Linked DNA regions of Homo sapiens: all the other regions are linked to region 1. The links come from fine-mapping of genetic effects on gene expression. A gene starts in region 1. Each other region holds a variant in brackets. All regions are shown on one strand. Distances are from middle to middle.

What was found. PIP is the estimated chance that this variant, and not a neighbour inherited with it, causes the effect.
Region 2: its variant is fine-mapped to the expression of RAB23 in aorta (GTEx, PIP 0.99).
Region 3: its variant is fine-mapped to the expression of RAB23 in blood mononuclear cells (TOPMed, PIP above 0.99).
Region 4: its variant is fine-mapped to the expression of RAB23 in lymphoblastoid cells after a statin (CAP, PIP 0.91).
Region 5: its variant is fine-mapped to the expression of RAB23 in whole blood (TOPMed, PIP above 0.99).

Annotation. Positions count from the first base shown.
Region 1 is chr6:57,219,787-57,224,894 of GRCh38, forward strand. RAB23 (RAB23, member RAS oncogene family) reads right to left here and starts at 2,521. Exons shown (of 7, transcript NM_016277.5): 1 at 1,940-2,521. It also overlaps a transcript of PRIM2 not described here. RefSeq lists a silencer at 1,875-2,224.
Region 2 is chr6:57,259,319-57,264,426 of GRCh38, forward strand. It overlaps LINC03001 (long intergenic non-protein coding RNA 3001), which reads right to left and starts at 4,028. Exons shown (of 3, transcript NR_109774.1): 1 at 3,985-4,028; 2 at 3,128-3,349; 3 at 1,206-2,399. It also overlaps a transcript of PRIM2 not described here. The variant G/A (reference allele first, on the strand shown) is at 2,782.
Region 3 is chr6:57,195,510-57,200,617 of GRCh38, forward strand. It overlaps RAB23 (RAB23, member RAS oncogene family), which reads right to left. Exons shown (of 7, transcript NM_016277.5): 4 at 941-1,097. Among named protein-coding and RNA genes, the nearest start is that of RAB23, 24 kb to the right of the region's middle. The variant T/C (reference allele first, on the strand shown) is at 3,053.
Region 4 is chr6:57,082,880-57,087,987 of GRCh38, forward strand. No RefSeq gene overlaps it. Among named protein-coding and RNA genes, the nearest start is that of ZNF451, 4.8 kb to the right of the region's middle. The variant C/CT (reference allele first, on the strand shown) is at 3,069.
Region 5 is chr6:56,982,852-56,987,959 of GRCh38, forward strand. The region is part of intron 2 of BEND6 (BEN domain containing 6); the gene reads left to right. Among named protein-coding and RNA genes, the nearest start is that of BEND6, 30 kb to the left of the region's middle. The variant C/A (reference allele first, on the strand shown) is at 2,829.

The sequences.
Region 1 (5,108 bases):
TACAATTAACTCAAATGGATCACAGATCTAAATGGAACACTTTTATAAAACAATTTTTAGAAGGAGAAAATCTTGACCTGTTAGGCAGAGTTTTTAGACATGACACCAGATGACCCATAAAAGGAAAAACTGATACTGGACTTCACCAAAATTAAAAACATTGCTGTCTGAAAGACACTGTTAGAATGAAGAGAAAGACAGACTGGAAGAAAATACCTGAAAAACACGTATCTAACATATAATTTGTATCCAAAACATATAAAGAGCCTTCAAAACTCAACATAAGAAAACAGCCCAATTTAAAAATGGGCAAGAGACTTTGCCAGATACCTCACCAACGACTCCATGTGGCAAATGAACACATGAAAACATGTACATCTTTAGCCATTAGTTAAAGGCACATTAAAACCACAAGGAGATACCACTACACACCTATTAGAATGGCTAAATTTAAAAAAACTGACACTATCAAATGCTGGGAGTATGTGGAGCAACTAGAACTCTCACATGTTGCTTGTGGGAATGCAAAATGACACAGATACTCCAGAAAACAGTTTAACAGTTTTTTAAAAGTTAAACATACATTTACCATATGACCCTGCAATCCACTCCTAGCAATACCCTAGAGAAATGAAAACATGTCCATGCAAAAACCTGTACATGGTATTTATAGCAGATTGATTCATAATCACAGAAAACTGAAAACAACCTCAATGTCCTTCCATGGGCAGATGTTGAAACAGACTGTGGCATATCCACATAATAAAATAGTACTCAGCAATAAAAAAAGAAATTATCCATACATGAAACAACTTGGAGAAATCTTAAAGGCATTATGCTGAGTGAAAAAAAGCTAACATCGAAAGATTACTAACTGTTATGATTTCATTTCTAGAAAAGATTAGTAATTGCCAGGGGTAAGGAGTATGATATAATGGGATCACATTAGGTTTTTTTTCTGTGGCGGGGGAGCGATAGATTTGTTCTACATCCTTACTGTAGTGGTGGTTACATGAGTCTAAAATTCGCAGAACTGTACATCGAAAAAAAATCAATTTTACCATACACTTTTTAAAATAATAAATTAATTTCCTTAAAATAAATTTAAAGAAAAAAGCCAAATTAAATTTTAACAGGCAGTCGGACTCTTGCTTTTCAGAAACTATAGACTTAAAGCACTAGATCAAAACAATTACGTTCCTAGAAATAAGCATACTTCTGAGTACAATTAAAAACCTCGACAATAATACTTTATATAAATACCCTTTCCCCAAAACTTTTAACATTTTGCTAATGCGGTCTAATAAATTAGAGAAGCAAAGGGTGAGTTAACTCACTAATCAAAAGGTTGTTTTCTCATAACAGCCTTTATTTAAGTAGAAGTACAGGTTATATTTGTAAAAATACTGAAAAACTTCTTAGGGTCAATGAAATTACCTAGATGTTAGGAGATACATAAAAACCTAGAGAAGTTAACAGCCCTTTTCAGACCCTACTGCCACTTCACTAGCTCCTGATAATGAAGTTCTTACTCTCACACGCTCTCAGGTTCTTACTCCTGGGAACTGCCGATGGCTCCTCGGATCTCCGAGTAAAGTTAATTCTGTAGCAACCAGTGTCAATGGAACAGCACAATTTGGCTCATTCATATTCCAGCACTCTATGAACAAGAAACTAGGGAAGGGTGGGGTCGCGGGTAAAGAGTGGTCGCACTGCAGGGAGGAGTCTAAATGCCAGGGTGGAGCTGAGGACTCTCTTCGCCATCAAACCTAACCTGAGCACTTCACGCCCTTACTGGTGTCTGGCCCAGCCCGGGTCGCCCCTTCCCCAGTCGGGACTTGGGGCAGGCAAAAAGCCGAACGTTCGGCCAGACTGGGGACGCAGCGCCGCCCTCGCTCCACCCCTCTTTCCCGCCCACCAGGCAATTCCAGGTACCCACCGCTGGGAGCTGGGAGGGGGCGCCGGGCTGGCGCTGCCGCCCACCTTCTCTAGCTGGAACTTGGGATCGGTGCTCAGGGAGGGGAGAGCCGGCGCTCGGCGGTCCGAACCGGGGGATGGGGGAGCCGGGCCGGGAGGCCCCTGCCCTCGATACCCCTGCCCACTCCGGAGAGTAAGGCACAACCCGGGACCCCGGGGAGAAGCTGAGTCTTCCCCAGTGGAGCCGGACGAACCCCCAGCCCCTGGAGAGGGCGAGTGAGTGCAGCGCCGCTGCACCGCAGCGCGAGCCGCTACTCACCGTCCCCCACCGGCCGCGGACCCGCCGCCCGGCGCCACCGGCTCCTCCTGGTCGCGGCGCAACCGCTGCCGCCGCTGTCTCCTCCCGACGCGCCAGCTCTCCCTGCGGGGCCGAGCGGCTAGTTCGCACCCTCTTTCGCTCTCTTAAGAATGATTATGATTTTTAAACGAACTTTATTAGTAGCCAGGGCTCAGATTGAGTGGCTCAGCAGCAGCTCCGCCGGGGGTGGTGGGGCGCGGGAGTCTCGACTCCCCTCATCTGTGGACCCGCCGCGCTGCGGAGCATGCGCCGTGCTTCGTCTGCGCATGCTCTGTGCGGACCCGCGGCCCTGCCCCGCCCCTGTTCTGGCGGGTGGCTGGCGGCGGCTCAGCTTTCCAGGCGCCTCCAAGGGAGCCCGGGAGGGCAGTGGGGAGATCAGAGACGAGCAGGATCTCCTAGATCGTGAACTCTAGAAAAGAGAAATCGGCCAATGACGGTCCGCATGAGTTTCGCCTACAGAGTTATCACACTTCCAGTGTCCTCAAAGGGCTTGCCCCGCTTCGGACACCTACCTTATTTTCTTGACCAGATGACATCTTAAGTGGCCAAGTGAGCAAAAAAATGTCGAGCAAAGTCGAAAACGCACTCACACAGCCTGCAGGACAAAATAGAAGCCTGAGATGGTTAATTATTCAGAGAAGCGAACCAAAAACGAAAAGGTTCCGCAAAAGCAATCTCAACTTTGCTTCAGTTGTTTTTATATTTCAAAATAAAATAGAATAGAAAAAAAAGATGGAAAATACCAAGTGTTGGCCAGGATGTAGAGTAACTGCATTCTTCTACTTTGCTGCTGGAATGTAAACTGGAACAACTCCTTTGAAAAACAGTTTGGGACTGTCTGCAAAAGGTGCATACCCTATGGCCCCGCAGTTCCACGCCTGCATATAGAGCAAAGAGAAACGAATACTTAGGGTGCACGGACAGGCAGGTATCAGAATGTTCGTAGCTGCATTTATTGTAATAATTCCTTAATGAGAATAACCCAAAAGACCATCAACAATAGAATAAATTAATGAAATTACACAGAGTTCATATAATGAAACACTATACAGCAACGCAAAAAAGCATCTGCAATTACAGGCAATAACGTGAATCAACTGGGGAAACCTAATGCCCAGCATAAAAAGACAACAAAAGTACACATGGCATAAGTCCATTTCTATAAACTACAAAAACAGAAGAACTAAGAGGCTCAAAGTTAGCATAATGGTTACCTTGGTGGGCAGGGGATAGTGACTGGAAGGAGTTAGCGACTAGAAGAGGGGCTTCCAGTTAGCAACTGGAAGAGGGGCTTCCTTCTAGTGAGGTTCTCTCCGTTGATTTTGGCGCTAGTTATAAATGCGTGTCCATTTGTGAAAATTCAAGCTGTACTCTTATGCACATTTTTCTGTATGTGAATTATAATTCACACTTAATAATTTTAAAAATTAGTGGAGATTATTTTACCTATAATAGCAATAGTATTTGTAAGAAATTTAATATCAAGTAGCTAACAGATTTATCTCTAGGATTTGGTTGGCAGTATCTCTTAAACTTGAGTAACGTACTGATGCCCTTTCTGAGAAAAGAAAAAAAACAATTAAAAAGTTGGCAAATGACTTGAATAGACATTTCTCCAAAGAAGGTATACAAATGGCCGATGAGCACATGAAAAGAGACTCAAGGTCACTAATCATGAGGGAAATGCAACTCAAAACCATGAGATACAACTTCACACTCATTAAAATGATGATTATAAACAAAGCAGAACAGAAAATAAATATGAGTGTTGGCAAGGATGTGGAAAAATTATAACCTTTGTGTGCTGCTGGTGGGAATGTAAAATGGTACGGCCACTATGGAAAATTGTATGGTTCATCAGAACATTAAAAATAGAATTATCGTATGATTAAATAATTCCACTTCTGAGTATATATTCAAAAGAATTGAAAACAGGGACTCAAAAAAAAATTTGTACAACCATGTTTATAGCAGCATTATTCACAATAGCCAAAGGGTGGAAGCAACCCAAATGTCCATCAATGGATGAATGGATGAACAAAATGTAGTATATACATGCAATAAAATATTATTCAGCCTTAAAAAAGGAGGGACCCAGGTGTGGCGAGGTATCCCTGTAATCCCAGCTACTTAGGAGGCTGAGATGGGAGGATCACTTGAATCCAGGAGTTCAAGACCAGCCTGGGCAAATCCTGTCTCAAAAATAAAAGAGAGAGAGGGAAATTCTGACACATGTTATAGCATGGATGAAGCTTGAAGACATTATGCCTAGTCGCAAAAGGACAAATGCTGTATGATTCAACTTATATAAGGTACATAGAGTAGTCAAATTCATAGAGACAGTTGGGGGGTGGGAAGTGGTTGTGGGAAAGGAAGGGCAGGTGGGAATGGGGAGTTACTGTTTTATGTCTACAGTTCTAGCTTTGCAAGATGAAGAAAGTCTGGAGATAGATGGTGGTGATGGTTGCACAACGATGTGAATAAACTTGATGCTCTTGAACTTTATACTTAAAAATGGCTAAAAATGGTAAATTTTATGTTTTATGTATATCTTGCCAAATTTCTTTTTAATGGGAAAAAAAAAAAAGAAAATCTTAGAGGGTCTCAGGGAGTACTTCTGGGATCCAAATTTGAGAAAAACTTCCTGAAAGGGGGTTCCCCCAAAATCATTTCTTTCCTCCCCACTTTTCCATTTCCTTGGGATTGTTGGACATTGAAGGAGATCCAGAATATGCCACCCCAAAACATGCCACTTTGACACAAGCATTATTTGGAGTTGAAGGCAATTAAGAAACAGCAGAACAGAAGAAACACTCTGCTTTTCCTATTTCTG
Region 2 (5,108 bases), 40 kb after region 1:
TGCTCTATATGCCTCTCATCTTCCTCCTGGGACCAGTAGGTTGCCCTGGACATGTGTAAGAAGAAAATTGGAAATATGCAAGGTCTCTTAAGGCCTAGGCTTGGAACTGGCACACTAATTTCTGCCTCATCCTGTTCGTCAAGGCAAGTTACAAGGCTGAGACTAATGTCAAAGAGCAAAGAGACATACCTCATTTTTTTTTAAGAGATAAGGGTATGCCTGTTGATTAGGTTGTACTCAAATGCCTGGGCTCAAGGGATCATCCTGCATTGCTGGGACTACAAATGTGCACCACTGTGCCCAACTGAGATATACTTCACCTTTGTGGGGTGTAGTGGATGCTGAGGTGCACTTCCTGGTCCCTTTCCAGAACCAAGGCACTTACTTTCTCAGCTGCTAGGAATATTGCTTGCTGATGATGGCTCACCAAGTCCACTGACTCCCATCCTTTCACCTCCACCCTCGCCCTGGAGTCCCCATCCCACTGCCCACCAGGAATTGTCCTCAGCTGAAGGGCACTGCTTTGCCCAAGGGTGCCCCTATGGTCAACCCACATTCAAAGACTAGTCAGATGTGAGTATGAAGTCTGACCTCTTGCCTCAATTCAAGACATCTCTGAAGAGCTATCCTAGCATCAGAGCTTCCCATAGGATTGGGTGAGGCCTGGGTTGCAATTAAATTAGTCCCATTTTTTTCTGTGTCAATCTTGCTTCCCCTATTCCCTTAAAATGGCTGTTTCCAAGAGCATTCCTCAATAATTACTCTATGAAATCTAACCTTCAACATGAGAGGGACTCCAAAGCCAATGGTGAAGGGCAAAGATATAGTATAGGAAAGAATCAAAACCAATAACGCAATCTACCACATCTTTGCATTTAAGAAGTAGATTAAACTGCATCCCAGGTCCAAAAACAAAAGCATATAGTGGAGCAGACAGAATCTCTGTCTGACATGTCTTAATGTATATCTAAACCATTGATATTGGACCTTGAAATATATTTGACTTGGAAAAGGCATGTGGTCCTGAAGAGTTGTGGGCAAATGGAAACTTTGTAAATTGAATTAAATTCCAAATGCATGGTGGGGGTTTGGTATTCTAAAGTGAAAAATGTGGTGAATTATTTTATGAATAACCATTTTAATAACATTGATTTTTCTATGATGAGTTTTACATATCAGCAATTTATTTCATTTTTATGAACCCATTCTATTTTTAAAATAATTCTGTGTGTGTGAAATTATAGCATGATGTCATACGTTTGTTTTTTGGTCTCCAATCCTTGGTGGATTTCCTTTGCATAAATTTTAAGTTTACATGAACCTGAAAAGATTCCAGGGACTCTGGGCAAAGCCATGGGTGCATGGTTGTTGGAAATGGGTACAATGGATATAAGTAGCCGGGCAGACAAACATCCCAGGAGAAGAAATTTTGGCCAGGTCATGTTCCTTTGTCCAGTAAAAAAAGCAGGAGGAGAGAAAATAGATAATTTACTGTACTCAGGGATAGGGATTGATAAAATAGCTACAGCAGAAGGAAAAGTCAGCAGGAAAATCAAGAATTCTAACAGAATATTGCGGATATGACTGTTCATGATCTCCAGGGGTATGAAGGGCAAGCCAGGCTAAAAAGTGGACCAGAACACTGGTGGTTGAGGGATTGGAGGCCCCAGTGAGAGGAGGGAATAGGCACACAGCAGTGACAGATTCAATGGAAGTTTTTCCATATTTATGATATGCAAGCCATGTGTATTTTCATTTCCCTCATGCTTTTCTGTGAAGGTTGAGGCTCTCCCATGTGATAGTTTCCTCTATCAGTCAGGATTCTAAATATTCTTGATATTTTAAAGAAGAGATTTAATACCAGGAGATGACAAAGGTAAGAAGCCTAAAGTGGGAGAGTAAGGCATCCTTGAGATTATCAAGAGCAGGAAGCTGCTACCACTGCCTAAAGCTTAAGGGACAAAAGGAGCCAGGCCACCAGGGAGAAGTTGGAACCACAGAAGCTCTTGGAGCAAGAGCTGGGTCCATAGAAGAGATGGCCGCTGCCAGAGACAATACTTGAAGCTGAGAGAAGTGGGGAAAAATACCCAGCTTCTCCCTTTCTGCTCTCTCTTCAGGGCCATCCAATGGCTGAACTGACCCAGAAACCAGAGGGCAAAGGAACAAGGAAAAAGTAATTCTCTGTGATACGGAACAGGGTAGAGCGGGGACAGGGGATAAATCTAAGAGCAAAACAGGACAAGACTAGCACATGGCCTCAACTTCTCTGCTCTCCATGGCAATGTCTTCCTCCTCTTCTGTTTCCAGGAGTCTCTAATTCCTGCCACTTATTGCCCCAGGCTCCCTTGATAGCTGGTTTCCAGGTGGGGGCACAGCCAATGGGTGGCAGCAGCAGGAGACTGGGAGATAAAAGGAAAGGTTGGGTTATTTTTCCCCATTCCCTCCCTGCTTTGGAGCCACCTCTCTGGAAGGCTCCCTCCACCATTATAGATCCTGCTGGTGGTCTGTCTTCCGTGGCTCCAGGTCTCACCAGCTCTCACCAGGTCTCTCTCTAGGAGTGGTTTCCTTCTATTGCTGGTCTCTGGGTGTCTCAACATCCCTTGCTAATTCCCTTAATTCTGCCCACAGCTATGTCAGCAGTATCTTTGTTAAAGTCCCTTCATTTGAACAATTTGGCTTGAGTTCTGTTTTCTGCCAGAACCCTGGCTAGTATCCTGACCTACTGTGTTCTTTTCCAAGCTCCTTTCAAGTGTCATATTTTCCCCACTGTTGCCCAGATCA[G/A]CAGTGTGGTATAGTAGAAAGAATACTGGACTTACTGGCAGACAGACATGGTTTTATTTCTGATTCAGTCACTTACAGAGTTACTGGCTGGGAAAGTTATTTAACCTCCTGAGCTTCCGTTTTCTTGCTGGTAAAGTGGAAAGGGGATAATGATGAATTTCAGTTGGATATATTAGAAATCCGTGCCTGACCCATGTGTTCCAGGCCTCATCTGCCAGTTGTCTTTTTTTTTACATACCGATTATTTATGGCGTAAATCCCCTTCCTACTCGACTGAAAGAAATGAACCCCCTTCAAAGTATTTCCAGTTATTTCTAGAAGTTTCCAAAGAAGTTCCCTTGCTCACCAGTCGTTCTTTCACAGTTGCCATCGTCTTCTGCCCTGTTATTTTGCTTCTGCCCCAGCTCCCACATGTCCAGCTTCTGCTTGCAGGGCCACTTGCTGAGGCTTTGCCGAGGCTGAAACTTTTCCAGGGTCACTGTCCATCATGAGAACACAGCACATGCCAAGGGTGTTGCCTCTTAGTGTTCCCAAAGAGTCTGGTCCTTGGGAAGCCTCCATTTGGCCTCTGTGGTGCAGAGAGGAGAATGTCCTTCCCTGGCTCAGCCCCAAATAGCTGGGCTTGTGCCTAGAGCCTCTGAGAGTCTCTTTGACTATTTCCTCAGCTAATTTCACATGTAAACAAAACAACTCACAGAGGTTCTGCAACCTGCTTCCACCGTCTTTCTAGAAGGAGGTCAGAAAGGGAACAGATGCTTTGCCCTTTTCCCCTCTCCCCTCCACAGCTCTCCCAACCCCCAAACCCATCTTCCTCTTCTATTTGCTAAACTAAACATTTTATACTTATCAACCACTGTGGGATGGAAGTGGGATGGTCAAGGAGGGAGGTGAGGTCTAGATGACTTCTGTATATGAGCCAGAGTCCAATCCATTTATATATGAATGACTCCTAGTACAATATCTGACACAAAGTGGATTCTCAATGGTTGATGAATACTATTATCACGTAAATAGGAAACCACATTTCCTACCATTTAGATAGTATAAGTTCTTCAAAGTTCAATTTATGTGTCATTTCTTACCAGAAACCTGGCCCTAATCCCAGTAGGATGAGGTTACTCTTTGCCTCTGTATTTGCTTCTTAGGGCTATGGTTATAATATACCAAGAATTGGCTTAAAACAACAAAAATTTATTCTCTCACAGTTCTGGAGGCTGGAAGTTTGAAATCAAGACATTGATAGAGCCATCCTCTCTCTGAAGGCTGTAGGGAGAGTCCTTCCTTGCCCCTTCCCAGCTTCTGGTGGCTCTTGGCAATCCTTGGTGTTCCCTGGCTTAGAGCCGCTTCACTCAAATCTCTGCTTCTGATGTTGCACAGTCATCTTCTCCCTGTGTGTCTTTGTTTCCACGTGGCATTCTCTTCCCTTATAAGGCCATCAGTCACAGTGGATTGAGGCCCACTCTAGTAACCTCATTTAACTTGATTATATCTGCAAAGGCCCTGTTTCCAAATGAAGTCACATTCTGGGATCCTGAGAGTTGGGATTTCAAAATACCTTCTTGGGGGGTGCAATTCCACCCACAACACCCTGCAATAAGATTTTAAAATTGAATAGCAGCAATCTTATTTCTCTTTTGACATCTATCACATCTAGCTTATTTTATAGTAATCTATCTTTTATCTCCCCCTACAACACTGAACAGCCCAAGGACAAAACCTGTTTCTGATTCACTTTTGTGTCCCTGACAATACCTACATGTCCCATAATAGGTTTGATAGGTACTAAGTGACCGGGCTGAGGCTTGCACCCTCCCCTCCTGACTCATGATCAATCCTTCAGACTAGAGCGTGCTGCCACCAGCCTGGTACATGTATTTGTGAGTTCCTTGGGTTTCAACTCCTTGGTTGATTTATTTTTTGAAAACACTATATATCAGGAAGATGGGTTTGGCTAGCTGAAATAGCTGGTTATAGCTTGCCTTGGGTGGTTAAATATTTATGTCTTCTGAGAGTGAACAATGGGCTTTACTCTACCAGGGAAATAATCTTGTTTGTCCCCATTTATTGGCTCTTTTTTCCTCTTTTACATTTTCAGCATCCTAATGATGTCCTTAGTGATAGTTGCTATGGAAGTATTTTAGTGTTTTCTGCAGTGTTGGGTGGTGCAGTACCTGAAGCCCTCTTTAGTGTGTATTTATAATGACACCAAGCCATGAATTTCATTTTAGTGGTAGCTTTCTTGCTTAATAACTGGTTGTCGTCGGGGGAGTGGTCTGCATTTATTTTGGCCTCCTGATTTATCGCACTGATTTTTCTTCTCCTTTTCA
Region 3 (5,108 bases), 24 kb before region 1:
ATCAAGGTTGGTCTGGGTGTCCACTAATATGCAATACAAGGGACAGTATAAGACTGGGTCATAAGAAACACTGTGGCTTCTGTCTTGCTCTTTCTTGGATCACCCACTCTGGGAGAAATAGCTGCCGTGTTGTGAGAATAGGAGAGGCCCATCTGACAAGGAACTAAGGCTTCCTGCCAAGTGAATAAGCCATCATAGAAATGGATGGTCCAGCACCAGTGTAGCCTTTCCGTGAGAACAGGCCTAGCCAACATCTCAACTGCAGCTTCATGAAAAACCACCAGCTAAGCCATTCTCAAACTCCTGATCTACAGAAACTGTGATATAATAGATGTTTGTTGTTTTAAGACACTAAGTTTTGGGCTAATTTGTTACATAGCAACAGATAACTAACATAAGAAGACTTAAAAAACAGGTAAAAACCAAGCAAATATTTTCAAAACTGGCAAAAATAATAATACAATAAGTAAATATTTATGAACAGAAATTATCTGTTCACAAATTTGAGCATAAGAGTTCTGAATATACAAAACAATATGAATCTGAACCCTTAATTAAAATTCATCAACATAGGATAGTTACTTATTCTGGGTATTACAAAATCTAGGGATGCTTTTCTTAACATTCTTACCATATTAAGGTTTGACTTAACATGAAGAATTAGATTTCTTGTGCAAAGACCTGAGATTAGAATTCTAAAAGAGCCTTCAAATTTTAATCCTTTAATTTTATCTACTTAGGAATCAATGAATTTTTTAACCCAAACCAATCACATAGAATAGCTCACAGAAATTTTAGGTAAATTAAAATATTTAAGTCATTAAAGCCTTCAAAATGAAAGTATAGAATTTTTCCTAGAACCTGTAAAACTATGCAAAAATTAAGATGTCTTAACTTTATAGAATTACTGTCCCTCCTTCCCCAAAAGTAGCCATCTTACTTCTTTATACAAGAATCATCCAGAAGATCAATCTTGTTTTGCACAAGTACAGTTGGTATATCTCCCACTTCGGCTACTACTTTCTCTCTCCAACTGGAAACTGCTTCAAAAGATTCCCTATCTGTGGTAGAGAACACGAGCACACAAGCCTGGGCTCCTGTAAGTTCACAATCAATCAATCAATCAATCAAGGTATTTACATTAACATATTACATTTACATTAAGAAAACAATCTCATGAAGAATGGGGGCAACTTTTATCCATTCAAAACAACTTTTATGTAAATAAATGTTGAACTCATCTTTGTACTACTCTTCTTTACTTTTCAACATATAAACTCTATTTATGTTGAATTCATCTTTGCACTACTCTTCTTTACTTTTCAACATATAAATTCTATTTTCATTTTTACCAAAAACAGTGGTTCTCAAATGTGTTCAACTGTCAAAGTACCTCAAAAGCATACACATTCTTTTTGGAATACCATAAAATACTGATTTAATTCCATTATAAAAGCTAGAGAGAATGGTAAACTAAAATTACAGGCTGTTGCCAAATTCTTCTTGTTAATTTGCTTCTTAATTTCTTTCAGCGTAGATTTAAGAAAAATGTCATTTGCTTAATTTCTTTCAGCGCAGATTTAAGAAAAATTTATGAGAAAAAAATCATAATTTGTTCATTCTATTCACTTTTTAAATAAATTGTATTATTTTATTTCAGTAGAATACCAGTGATCCTAAGGAACATAATTTGAAAGCCAATGCCAAGAGTATATATATATATAATAGAGGGGTTGGGGGAAACTTAGTTTTACCCTGTTTAACTGCATAATTTTACCCACCCATATTGTATCCATTGACAATATTTTAACCATCAACTGTCATTTTAGGCTGATAATATCAAAGACTAAAATAAGCAGAAACCTCTTAGAAGAAGCAGTTTTATAAATTATTAGCTATTGATTCAGGTAGCATGGTGATAAAAGCAGGCATGTAAGCAACAAGAGAAAATCATCCTGGGGGTCAAGAGGATTTCCTGAAATCAAGGCATGTTTTCTTACCATTACTCCTTCCTTACACATCCCTCTGGTATAAGAGTTTTCTACTAAGACTCAAGATATGTCTGGGCTATCTAAGACACTCTAGAGCCAAAACTAGTCTGTATATCTATATATCACTGGGGGAATACTGTAGAAAGCAAAAGACCACAGAAAGAAAACAGCAGTTTGCTATTACTGTAAAAACAGAAGGTTCATTTGGAAAATCTTCCCTACCCTAAAAACAGGTTTTTTGTTTTCTGGTTTTCTTGAGACAAGGTCTCACTCTGTTGCCCAAACTGGAGTGCAGTGGCATGATCATGGCTCGCTGCAGCCTCGACCTCCTGGACTCAATCAATCCTCCCACCTCAGCCTCCTGAGTAACTGGGACTTACAGGAGGAGCCTGCCATCATGCACAGCTAATTCTTTGTTTTTTTGTTTTGTTTTGTTTTGTTTTTGTTTGTTTGTTTTGTAGAGATGGGTCTCCCAATGTTGCCCAGGCTGGTCTCAAACTCCTGGGCTCCAGCAATCTGCCTGCCTCAGCCTCCCAAAGTGCTGGGATTACAGGTGTGAGTGACTGTGCCTGGCCTAAAAACAGGTTTTAATCCAAATAATAAATGAATAATGCAAAATACAGAAAGAGAGAGACAAAGACACCCTGAGACCTTCTCAGAATTTAAGGGAAAATAAAACTGAAGAGATCACATTAGTATACCGATAAATAAACTTATATTTACTTGAGCTGTAATATTTACCTCAACTACAAATAAAAAAAATTATGTAATCATATTTTAAGAAACTGTGGATCATGAGGTCAGGAGATCGAGACCATCCTGGCTAACACGGTGAAACCCCGTCTCTACTAAAAATACAAAAAATTAGCTGGGTGTGGTGGCGGGTGCCTGTAGTCCCAGCTACTTGGGAGGCTGAGGCAGGAGAATGGCATGAACCCGGGAGGTGGAGCTTGCAGTGAGCCGAGATCGCGCCACTGCAAGACCAGCCTGGGCAACATGGCAAAACCCCATCTCTACAAAAAATACAAAAATCAGCCAGGCGTGGTGGCACACACCTGTAG[T/C]CCCAGCTACTCAGGTGACTGAGGTGGGAGGATTGCTTGAGCCTGGAAGGTTGAGGCTGCAGTGAGCTGTGATTGTGCCACCGCACTCCAGCATGGGCAAAAGGGTGAGACTCTGTCTAAAAAAAAAAAAAAAATTTGTTCTTTATCATAAAACTCAATGAATTACCTTTAAGCCTACAGCTTTATGTCCAGCTGTCATTTAAATTTGAGGGCACAATAGGGTATTTCCAAGTGTTCAAGGTCTCAGACACTTAACCAAAAAAACCTCTTAGAGGAAGCATATATGATGGAAAAAAAACCCCAAACAGATAATGCCAGAGATACGGGCAGTAAGAATGATTAAGAAAAGCTCAACATTATTTAAAAAATCAAAGACCAAAAGAAAGTATGTCCATAACAACCCCAAGATTATTTAGCAGGGGACAGAATGGGTACAGACCAGAGAAATGTGGGAATGTGCCAAAGTGCTTGTGTGAAGAAAGGGAAGATGTTTACATAATCAGGGAGGTAAATAAACAAACCCTGCAGCAGAGGCCTGTGGCTGCATGCATGTCCCCTCAACCGGGCTTCAGCGCAGCTGTGGAGAACAGTTCCTGTGCCAGTTGCTCCTGCCTATGCTGCAGGGGGCTCTGCTGTTCTGCTGGGGGCTGTTCTGATGCATCCCCCAAGGGGGAAGTGATGCCTCTGGGTGGCGGGGGGGTGGAATGAACACCTCAGCCTCCCTTTGGTGGGCTCCTGAGGCCTCTCTTCATGGTTCCTCAGGGAGACTGAGCCCCAGTGGCCCACAGTGATACTTAGAACGCTTTACTGGTTTTTCTCCCTTCCTTGCCTCATTCTCCCTAGTCTTTCACTCTACTTCCTGGGATCATGTCCCAAATAAACGAGCCCCACCCATGTGGCGCAGTGGGAAGGCACACAGAGGCTTAAACTAAGACAGTAAATGCCTTAAGTTAAAGGCAATCACCTTAAGAATAAGAGAATGTATGACTATTAAACCACAGGAGAAAAATGGATTTCTGCAGTATAAAGAACAAAATGAAAAAACAAGAACTGCAGGAAATAAAAAATCTGAAATAAGATCGCAAAAATAAGTCCTAAGAAGATAAATTACAATCTATAGAAAGAATGGTACACAAATCTCCAAAGCAGGACGGTTCACCTGATACCAAGCCTTTATATCAAATGCTGCACCACCTTGTCTGATTTAACCTAAAAATATTACTAAAATGGAAAAAAAATCAACTGGATTACTTTTTATGGATTACTTTTATGGTTATAATAATTCTGACAAATGTTGGACAACCACTTGTTTCCATTTCCCCTAACTGAATATCATCTTCCATCTAGACAGATAAAATACTTTGTCAAACTGTGATTCATCATGGTTCTTTTATGTTTGGAAAAATCCTAATGACCGGAAAGCCCTTTCTAATATTTAGTTTAAAAAGCTCAAAAGATGACCCCTTACCCTCCACCCTTTTTTAAAAAAAAACTTTGACTGAGGTACCAATAAAGCATGTAACAAATACAAGATTCCAAGATTTATGAGACAGATCATTATTTGCAGAATTTAGAAAGCAAATGGCTGATCCTGCTGCACAACTCTGAACTCCCTCAAGCACTTCAAGAATTTTTTTTTTTTTTTTTAATATGAGATGGGGGTTGGAAAGGAAAAGGATCTGTAAAGAATGTCTTGGCCGGGTGCGGTGGCTCATGCCTGTAATCCCAGCACTTTGGGAGGCTGAGGTGGGCGGATCACGAGGTCAGGAGTTCAAAACAAGCCTGGCCAACATAGTGAAACCTTGTCTCTACTAAAAATACAAAAATTAGCTGGGTGTGGTGGTGGGCACCTGTAGTCCCAGCTACTTGGGAGGCTGAGGCAGGAGAATCACTTGAACCCTGGAGGAGGAGGTTGCAATGAGCTGAGACCATGCCATCGCACTCCAGCTTGGGTGACAGAGTGAGACTCTGTCTCAAAAAAAAAAAAAAAAAAAAAAGAATTTTTTTAGAGGAAGTACTGTACTCCAAACCCTTTCTCCTGCAAAAAGGTGCAGTA
Region 4 (5,108 bases), 140 kb before region 1:
TTTTAGTGAGCTGTAGAAGCTAAGTGCTTGATAGAGGATTGAGAGCAGCAGACTGAGGTCCTCTTGTCTTGCCTCTCCTGGTAAGGCATGGAACCATCACCTTTCCAGATTGAGCAAGGGTGCTAAGGGGCCCAGTATTCTCAATGTGATGAGTTCAAGGTAGAGCCTCTGTCCCAATGGAAGAGGAGAGCCCCTGCCTCTCAACTGCACTAGCCCAGTGCTTAGCTTCAACAATAGGTAGCTGAGGACAGGATGAGAAACAGTGATGTCTTGCTCTTTACAGGAAGGGGGCCCTCCAAGTGGAAGTTGAGGAAGGGGGATAAGTTGGAGAGGGAGCCTGTGTTCTTGATTATAGCAGTCTGGAGTGAAGTCTGTCTTGCTGAGCTGGGAAGGGGGTGGGAGCAAGTGGTCTTGGTTTATATACCACAGATGCTTTCCTTTCTTACAGAATTTTCAGATTTCCTTTGATATATGTTTCTTCATTTGCTGTTGGCCCTTAGGACTGTCTCCATAGGCTTTAAGTGATTTTTAAAAATATTTTTTATCAGTTTCATATGAGAGCAGGCCAGTGGAGCTCCTCATACTGTCAAGCCAGAAGTACTATTCTTTCTTTTTGGAGACACAGTCATGCTCTGTTGCCCAGGCTGGAGTGCAGTGGCACGATCTCGGCTCACTGCAACCTCCACCTCCCGGGTTCAAGCATTTCTCCTGTCTCAGCCTCCCGAGTAGCTGGGATTACAGGCGTGAGCCACCATGCCCAGCCAGAAGTACTATTATTTCTTATAACTACATATGAATCTAAAATTATCACAAAAGGAAACTTCTTTTAAGAAAAAGAAAAGAATCAGAACATAAATATACAGCATGGCAAAACTACATCTAAAACAAGTATTATAGGTCTCATGGTGGAAAAATTGGACCCACAAGAAAAGTTGTTAATTATCTCTGATATTCTGAACCATTGATATCTGCAAAATGATTACTAGGTATGTGCAATGAAGGCTATTGATGTTACCCTGTATATCTGCACACTGTGTACAAATGCTGTTAAATGATGTAATAAAAAATTAAAAAGGAAATTAATGAATTCATATTTAATAAATTTTAAAAATGGAGAAGGTAAGACTTTCTTACAGAAAAATGCCAGTTGAAATCATTGAGAAAACTAGTATCGGACAATTACCACTTGCAGCCATCATAGTAAAAACTGATAACAGGCAAAAATCATCACATGATATATTGAAGGGAAAAGTTTCATGAGGAACATGATGTTTGCATGGCCTGAAAGTATATCCTCACAGATTGCTTACTAGTTGTAAGGGGAAAAATAGCAACTACATAGTGGTCATACTAGATGACACCTTGACCAGTTGGCTATAATTAATATCCTCAATGAGGGGCAGAGAGCCATCATGTGTCTCTACATGTAATAATCAAAAACACTTATAATGTCACTGATAGTATTTTGTCTGGTCTAACCTGCGTCTAATCATGAAGAAACATCTGACAAACCAAAATTAAGGAACATATTATAAAATAAGTGGCCTCGGTTCTTCAAAAACATCAATATCATAAAGACAATGGCTGAAAAACAATTCTAAATTAAAGAATAAAGGGACATAACATCTGAATGCATTATGTGATCCTAGACTGGATATTGAATTTGGACAATTGACAAAATGTGATAAGGACTGTAGATTTTTAAAAAAGTATTTTATCGTGGCCGGGCGCGGTGGCTCACGCCTGTAATCCCAGCACTTTGGGAGTCCGAGGCGGGCGGATCATGAGGTCAGGAGTTTGAGACCAGCCTGGCCAAAATAGTGAAACCCCATCTCTGCTAAAAATACAAAAAATTAGGTGGGCGTGGTGGCGGACGCCGGTAATCCCAGCTACTCGGGGCTGAGGCAGGAGAACCGCTTGAACCTGGGAGGCAGAGGTTGCAGTGAGCCAAGATCATGCCATTGCACTCTAGCCTGGGCAACAGTGCGAGACTCCGTCTCAAAAAAAAAAAAAAGTATTTTATCAACATTAACTTCCAGATTTTGATAATGGTACTATTAATGTCAAAGAAAATTCTGGTTCTTAGGAAATATATACTGAAATATTAAGGGATAAGGAGGCATGATACATGCAACCTACTTGCCAATGATTCAGAAAAAATAATATGTAAACATATGTCTCAGACAGAGAATATGGTAAAACAAATATTATTCTTTCAATTTTTCTATAGGTGTGAAATCATACCGAGATGTCTTGCTTCTGCTTAGGATTTTTCACTCTCCTTTAGCTTGTAGGAAGTAACAAATGTTAGTTATACCTGTCTTAAATTCCTCCTCAGTTGCTCTTAAATAAATCAATTTTGACAATGATTTTAACATGTAGATTATTGTAAAAGAGGTTAGACGATATAACCTTCTAATAAGATTGTTACAATTATACCTACCTACCGCACTACAGACCAATTCCTTTAATGAATACAATCTGGTTCTAATATTTTTGGTTGTCTGTGGTGTTTTCAAACCCCTTTTTAATCACCACAAGTGATTGAACCATCAGTAGTTTTGTTCAGTGGCCTGACATGGAATAATACTATTAATATGATCCAAATACACTGAACTGAACGGTGATTCTCCAAATCTTTCTAGAAAGAAAATAGGATGTGTAGGAAATTACTCACAATGTTTAGTAATAACACCAAAAACTACTGTCATCAGTGTACTCATAAGGCAAATGCATTTTGCTTGAAAGGGAGAATGTCCATATTCTAAATAAATTATGATAGCTTCCTCTAAATGAGTCAAGCAGCTTGTGCTTATGAGCCAGTGACAGAAATGAGCCACCGTCTTTTGTCCTGTGCTGCAACAGGCTGCTTTTTCTTATGGGCTAGTCCTTTATACTTTTTCAGAATCAAATGCTCTTTATTTTGCTCCCATAACTCCAGGCAATGACTATGACACCAGGTTGCTAAGAGCCATTTTCTTCCCTGAAGAATATTCTATTTTAAAATGCCTACAAATCTATTTCCTACTTCATCAGAAATTGTTAATGAGAATATTCCAGTTCCACAT[C/CT]TTTTTTTTTTGAGAGGGAGTCTCGCTCTGTCGCTCAGGCTGGAGTGCAGCGGCACGATCTCGGCTCACTGCAAGCTTCGCCTCCCAGGTTCATGCCATTCTCCCGCCTCAGCCTCTCTCTACAGGCCTCAGCCTCACTACAGGCCTCAGCCTCTCAGTACAGGCACCTGCCATCACGCCCGGCTAATTCCTTGTTTTTGTATTTTTAGTAGAGACGGGGTTTCACCGTGTTAGCCAGGATGGTCTCAATCTCCTGACCTTGTGATCTGCCCACGGTGGCCTCCCTAAGTGCTGGGATTACAGGCATGAACCACTGCACCCGGCCCAGTTCCACATCTTAAAACCAGAGCATTTAATCCAAACTAAATATAGTTCTTAATAATAGAATTGCATTGGAAGTATCTGTGCTTTACTAAACCTTAATAAAATTTTGTGCTGTGTATACATGAACTCTTCTGTCCATGTTGAATGTTCCTTAAATAAATTAGAGGCTCACGGTAGTCAGGATGAAAATATCAACACTGATACTTTCCCTTTTTTGAAATTTATGAGTATCAGATAATGTTTCTAAACAGGGCTTCCAAACTGATGCATTTAATTTGCCTCTTGGTGGCACACCCTTGGCCAAGAACACAGTCTCTAGAGTCTTAAATGCTGTTAGCAGCCAATGTTCAGATAGATGGTTCTATAAATTACCATTCAATACAAGCAGTAAGACAGTCGATGGAGATCTGATGAAAAATTTTAGTTTTGAAAACAAAACTAGACTTCTTTGATACATAATGATAATGAGTTGAAGGAAGAATATCAACATAATGTCACTGATACAGATCTAGAAATCTATTATGATGTCATTTGGGAAAAAGTCTAAAAGTATTAAATTTAGGGGGGTTGTCAACGCAATGATGGGCCCTCTTCAAGATCTTAACTTATAAGGCAAAATAATGGATTCACAGCTCAGGTAAAACAACAGCAAAAAAATTCCTCAATCACACAAAGAACATTTCCCCATAGTTTAAATTCTCCATTTTGAACCTTGAACCAGTCAGTAAACAATGCTGCTTCTTCCAATTCTAACCAGTTCCTCACTTCCCAAGATTGGCTGAAAATCACCCAACCCAATTCCTTCTTAACTTTCTAAGACTGGGAGATTCCTAAATTTTGCCTATGGCTTTTCTTCTCTTTGGCTACACCAAGCTAAATAAACCTGTCTTTTGGGGACTACAAGCATGTCTCAAATCTCTTGGTGGGCTTCAAAGGATTTTCTTTTTTTCTTTTTTTTTGAGACAGAGTCTCGCTCTGTTGCCTAGGTTGGAGTGCAGTGGCGCAGTCTCAGCTCACTTCAACTGCCTCCCAGGTTCATGCCATTCTCCTGCCTCAGCCTCCCAAGTAGCTGGGACTACAGGCACCCGCCACCACGCCCGGCTAATTCTTTGTATTTTTAGTAGAGACGGGGTTTCACCGTGTTAGCCAGGATGGTCTCAGTCTCCTGACATGGTGATCCGCCCACCTTGGCCTCCCAGAGTGCTGCAATTACAGGCATGAGCCACCACGCCCGGCCCAGGATTTTCTTTTTATTTTCTTTTTTTGAGACAGGGTCTTGCTTTGTTACCCAGGTTGTAGTGCGGTGGTGAGATTAGGTTCACTGAAGCCTTGACCTCTTGGGCTCAAGTGATCCTCCCACTCCAGCCTCCTGAGCAGTTGGGACCACACACATGTACCACCACACCTGGCTAATTTTAAATTTTTTTGCAGAGACAGGGTCTCACTATGTTACCTAGGCTGGTCTTGAACCCCTGGGCTCAAGCATTCCTCCTGCCTCCCAAAGTGCTGGGATTATAAGTGTGAACCACCACCCCCAGCCTGGATTTTCTTGTAAACACATAGTCCAGCTGCCCAGAAAAAAAATAAATTACTATTCCTGTTTAAGTAGGTTTTCTCTTTCAGGGATGCTTTTCTTGATGGCTTGACATGTGATATGGTTTGGATTTGTGTCCTCACCCAAATTCCATGTGGAATTGTAATCCCCAATATTGGGGG
Region 5 (5,108 bases), 240 kb before region 1:
TGTCTTTGGCACAAAACTAACCATATATATTGCTTTATACTTTTCTTTTTTACTTAATATATTTTGAAGGTATTTCCATTATTATACAGAGAGCTTTGTATTTTTTACAGCTCCATGTTATTGCACTGTGTGTATTCACCATCCTTTATTTAACTGGTTTCCTATGATAAATATCAGTTGTTTCTAATCCTTTTCTTACTATTTAATACAAACCACACAACACTGTACCACCTTATGTGTACATCATTTGATAGTACAGTGGTATTAAAATATAGACCTTAATCTGTTTCTGATTTTCAATCAGCACTGTTTTTTTAAAATAAATTTTATTGTGTATATTTCAGGTATATAACATCACGTTATAGGAAACATATAGATAGTAAGAAGGTTACTATAGTGAAGCAAATTAACATATCCATCACTCACAGTTACCCATTTTTAAAATTTTTGTTGCAAGAGCAGATAAAATCTACACATGTTGCATGAATCCCAAACACAAAACAATTTTATTACCTATGGTCCTCGTGTGCTACGTTAGATCTCTAAACCTCTTTGTTCTGTGTATCTGCTACTTCATATCCTCTGACTTACATCTCCTCATTTTCTCTCCTCTAAGCCCCATCTGCCCTAGTAACCACTGTTTTGTTCTGTATCTCTGAATATTTGAAAGTTTTTTTTAGATTCCAGATGTAAGTGAGATCATGCAATAATTTTCTTTCTGCGTCTGGTTTACTTCACCTAACATAACATCCTCCAGCCTCATCTACATTGTGGCAAATAGCAAGATCTTGTTCTTTTTTAGGGCTCAATGATATTCCATTTATAAATATATTAATTCTACTGTTTTTTAATCCATCCATTCATTTATGGACACTTTGCTTGTTTCCACACAATTAGCACTGTTTTTAATACCTATCTATATTGCTATATATACATCTGATCCATTGCTTCTAGCTGCTGCATAGCACCGTGTTTTATTTATCCTTTCCTCAGTGATGAATACCTAGATTGCCTCCAGCATCTTGCTACCACAAACAATGACAAAGTAAATATCCTTATACATGTCCTTTTAAGAAACTTTGTGAGGCCAGATGCAGTGGCTTACACCTATAATCCCAGCACTTTGGAAGGCTGAGGCAGGAGGATCACTTGAGCCCAGGAGTTTGTGACCAGCCTGGGCAACACAGGGAGACCCTCTCTCTACCAAAAAAAATTTAAAATTAATCGGGTGCAACTGCTTACACCTGTAGTCCTAGCTACTTGGGAGGTTGAGGTGGGAGGATCGCTTCAGTCTAGGAGTTTCAGGCTGCAGTGAGCTGTGTTCCCATCACTGCACTTCAGACTGGGTGACAGAGCCAGACCTTGTCTCAACAACAAAAAAAAAAGCAAAGAAAAAAGAAAAAAAAACTGTGTGACAATTTATCTGGGAAAAATACATAGGAGGGTGATTTATACCTTGTAAGTTATATGTTTATTTCTAGTTCATTTGACTAGATATTATAAAATTACTTTTCGAGAGTGTTCACATCAGTGTACGTGCCCAGCATCAGTGTTTAAGAGGTTCCCATATTTGTACTTCCCTACAACCGTTAGCATTAATATCCAAATTTCTAGTTTTTGCAAATTGATGGGAGAAAATGATATCTCATTGTTTTAATCTGCTGATGCAGGTTTAGGGAAACTCAAGGATTGCTTAAGAGGTAAAAACAGTCACATGCTCTTGTAGGCCGGTATTGTGGCTTCTTTAGCAAGAACTTAATAGCTTTCTAAACCACAATTTCTTTTTTGTTCCATTGAAATTCACTATAGCCAGAGATTTTATTTGATCATGGATTGTAAGCATGAAAACTGTTCTCTTCAATTACGGCATCTGTGTTCAGCCTCTTTTCTCTCCAATTTATGACAGTTATCTAAACAATATACAAAACAAAAAGCTTGAAGGAAACACCCTGCATCTGAAGCTTACCACTGGGCTGGATCCCATTATCTGTCAAGAACACTTAAAGAAAAGCTCTCGAGAAAGCCTTGAGGATACAGTCTTACCTTCTGCTATTTAGATATAAAAGTAATTGGCTTTTTCAAAACTTGAAGATTGAATATTACTGGACTCTCAGTTAATTTAAATTGCATGCTGCACTCAGAGAGCCTTCCATGTCTGCTTGCACACTGACCAGCACTGACAAGGAGTAGCTGATACATACCAGCATTGTTTTTCCAAGCTCAATAAGTTTGTGGTCTGCCTTCAAAGGTATTCCAGGTGACTGTTGTACCAAATATGCCCCAAGGTCTAACAAGAATCAATGGCTATCCAGCATGCCATGCCTGTGCGCTACCACCTGACCTCTCAGTAATTCAATTATATTTCAGGTTTTAGGTATTCGTACTTCTGGGTACTCAATTTTGGACTAGTTATGATATAAGTTGCAAAGGCTGTAAAATAGACTCAAGTAACACAATAATGGCTTATACAGGATGAAGTTTATTTCCCTCTTACCTAATAGTAAGAGCAGTTTAGGGGTGCTATGGCAGCTCCACATGTTGAGTGTCCCTCTTACCTTGTTGATCTACCTTCCTCAACACACAGCCTCTATCTCTAGGTCTAAGATGACTGCCCTCCCCTCACTCTCCCATCATGCCTTCCCATCTGCTAATAGAAGAAGGAGAATACAGGCAGAAGAAGGCATGCTTGTTCTTTTAAGGTTATCAACAAGTCAGTGGTCCAAAATACTCCTGCTCATATCCTATTGGAGGGAACTTAGTCATATAGTCACACTGAGCCACGTGGGAGTCAGGGAAATGAAGCCTTTAGCTGACAACTATGAGCCCAG[C/A]TAAAACCTTTATTGTACTATACAAGAATGGTAGAATAGACACCTGGAGATAGCTAGCAGTCTCTGCACTGTCCATTTTTCTATTAGGTTTTTGTTTTCTGTTCGTTTTCTTGGTTATTCTGATGGATTTCCTGTTCTGTCAATTCTTATTGATTTGCACTAATACCTTATCTATTGTAGAAATTAGTCTCTTATGGTTTGAGATATTACAAATATATTCTCCCAATCTAATATGTGTCTGTTAACTTCATTTCCTTCCACTGATGCTTACAAATGGATTTCTTTTGCCTGATGTCCTTTCCCTCTTGTAGCAACTTGCTAAAACTTGCTAACAAGAACTAGACCATAGATACTAATTACTACTAACAGAATTATGGTATCAATAGGCTATCTTCAGTTTTTAAAAATTTCTTATTTCTATTTAATCAATACATAATTTTTTCTTTAAGATTTATACATTTAACGTGGGTATAGCTATCTGCCTACTTCTGATATTAGTAATTTTCATCACTAGAAGATGTATTACATATGTATATATATACAAACACATATATAACAATGAAATATACAAACATATACATATATCTGTACATTTATAAAATAAAGGTGAGGGCCAGGTATGGTGACTCGCACCTATAAACCCAGCTACTCGGGAGGCTAAGGCGGGAGGACTGCTTGAGCCCAGGAGTTCGAGGCTGCAGTGAGCTAAAATTGTGTCACTGCACTCCAGCCCGGGCAAAAGAGCAAGACCTGTTTCCAGAAAATAATAATAATAATAAATAAATAAACAAAATAAAATAAAGGTTGAATGTAAATGCTGCAAATCATATAAAAATGTAGTTGTGTTTTCTATAACTGATCTCATCTGGCTTTCAAGTCTCTATGCTTGATTGATAAGACAATAAAAAGCTTAAACTTGTTTATTCATTTTCTAGTGTAAAACAGTCTTTTTGAGTTATTATTATTTAAGTCACTTCAGGATTTAAGCCTCAATGAATTCTAAATTCTTCCCCTCCTCCACCTTCTTTTCTTGGGAAGTGAACCAAGTTTTTCGAAGTCTTGCACTCAGCCTCTGGGGAAAGATATCTGATCTTTTACTGAGGTTTTAACTTCCCTGCCTTGTTTCAGGGTGTCCCTTGGTGTTACTGTTGAGCCAATCCTTACAGGTCCATTGGGGATTCTATTGGTAGCTGCTGCTGAAATTTGCCATCCTGGCACACACTGCCATCTTCTATAATGTTCTGGCACCTTGTGGCCTCTCTGTCTAGATATTAAGCTGTTTGTGTTTCTTTTCTTTTTTTTTTTTTTTTTTTTGAGACAGACTCTTGCTGTATCACCCAGGCTGGAGTGCAGTGGCACAATCTCTGCTCACTTCAACCTCCACCTCCTGGGTTTTCAAACAATTCTCGTGCCTCAGCCTCCCAAGTAGCTGGGATTACAGGCATGAGCCACCACGCCTGGCTAATTTTTTTGTATTTTTAGTAGAGACGAGGTTTCACCATATTGGCCAGGCTGGTCTTGAACTCCTGACCTCAACTGATCTGCCCACCTCCGCCTCCCAAAGTACTGGGATTACAGTCGTGAGCCACTGTGCCCAGCCAGCTGTTTATATTTCATTAGTTCCTCCAGAACTTACCTATTCCCTAACTAGGATACAAGCACATTTGGATTCTCCAGCTGTTTTGCATGAGCTCTGGGAAATCTGGATGTTGTCTCTGACCCATTTATCTGGACACCAATTTGGCCATTTCCAATCTGTGGCCCGGAGAGACACCATGTTGCCCTGATGCTGAACATGAGGACTCTTTAGGGAAGAATGCACTAAGCAAGGAGCCAGCCTGCTGTTCTGGGATTGCCCCCATTTATCTGTATGTCTCTATCATATACCCCCACCTGGAGATTCATCCCCTTTCCCCCTAAAGGGCAGGGGCAAGAAGAGCAAAGACATTTAAATCAGATTTCATGCTAATCAAGTTCTTATTGCCCAGGCTCCTCCTCCATGCACCAGAATGTCTTTTCTTTTACTGGGCAGTAGAGGCTTTCTTTATGTTATACCTTTGCTTCTTCTACTCTCAGGTTAATTCTTTAAAATTTTAAACAACAAACTTCTAGGTTTGTATCCTTATAAATTCCACTCTGTACTCCAATTTTCCAGATTTGGATATATATATACATATATATATGCCAGTTTGGTAGTTTCAGAAAATCCTTTTGTCTCAACACAGCTTGAATGTTACAACTTATAAGCATATGTTTTCAAATAATTGTCTTGCTATTGCC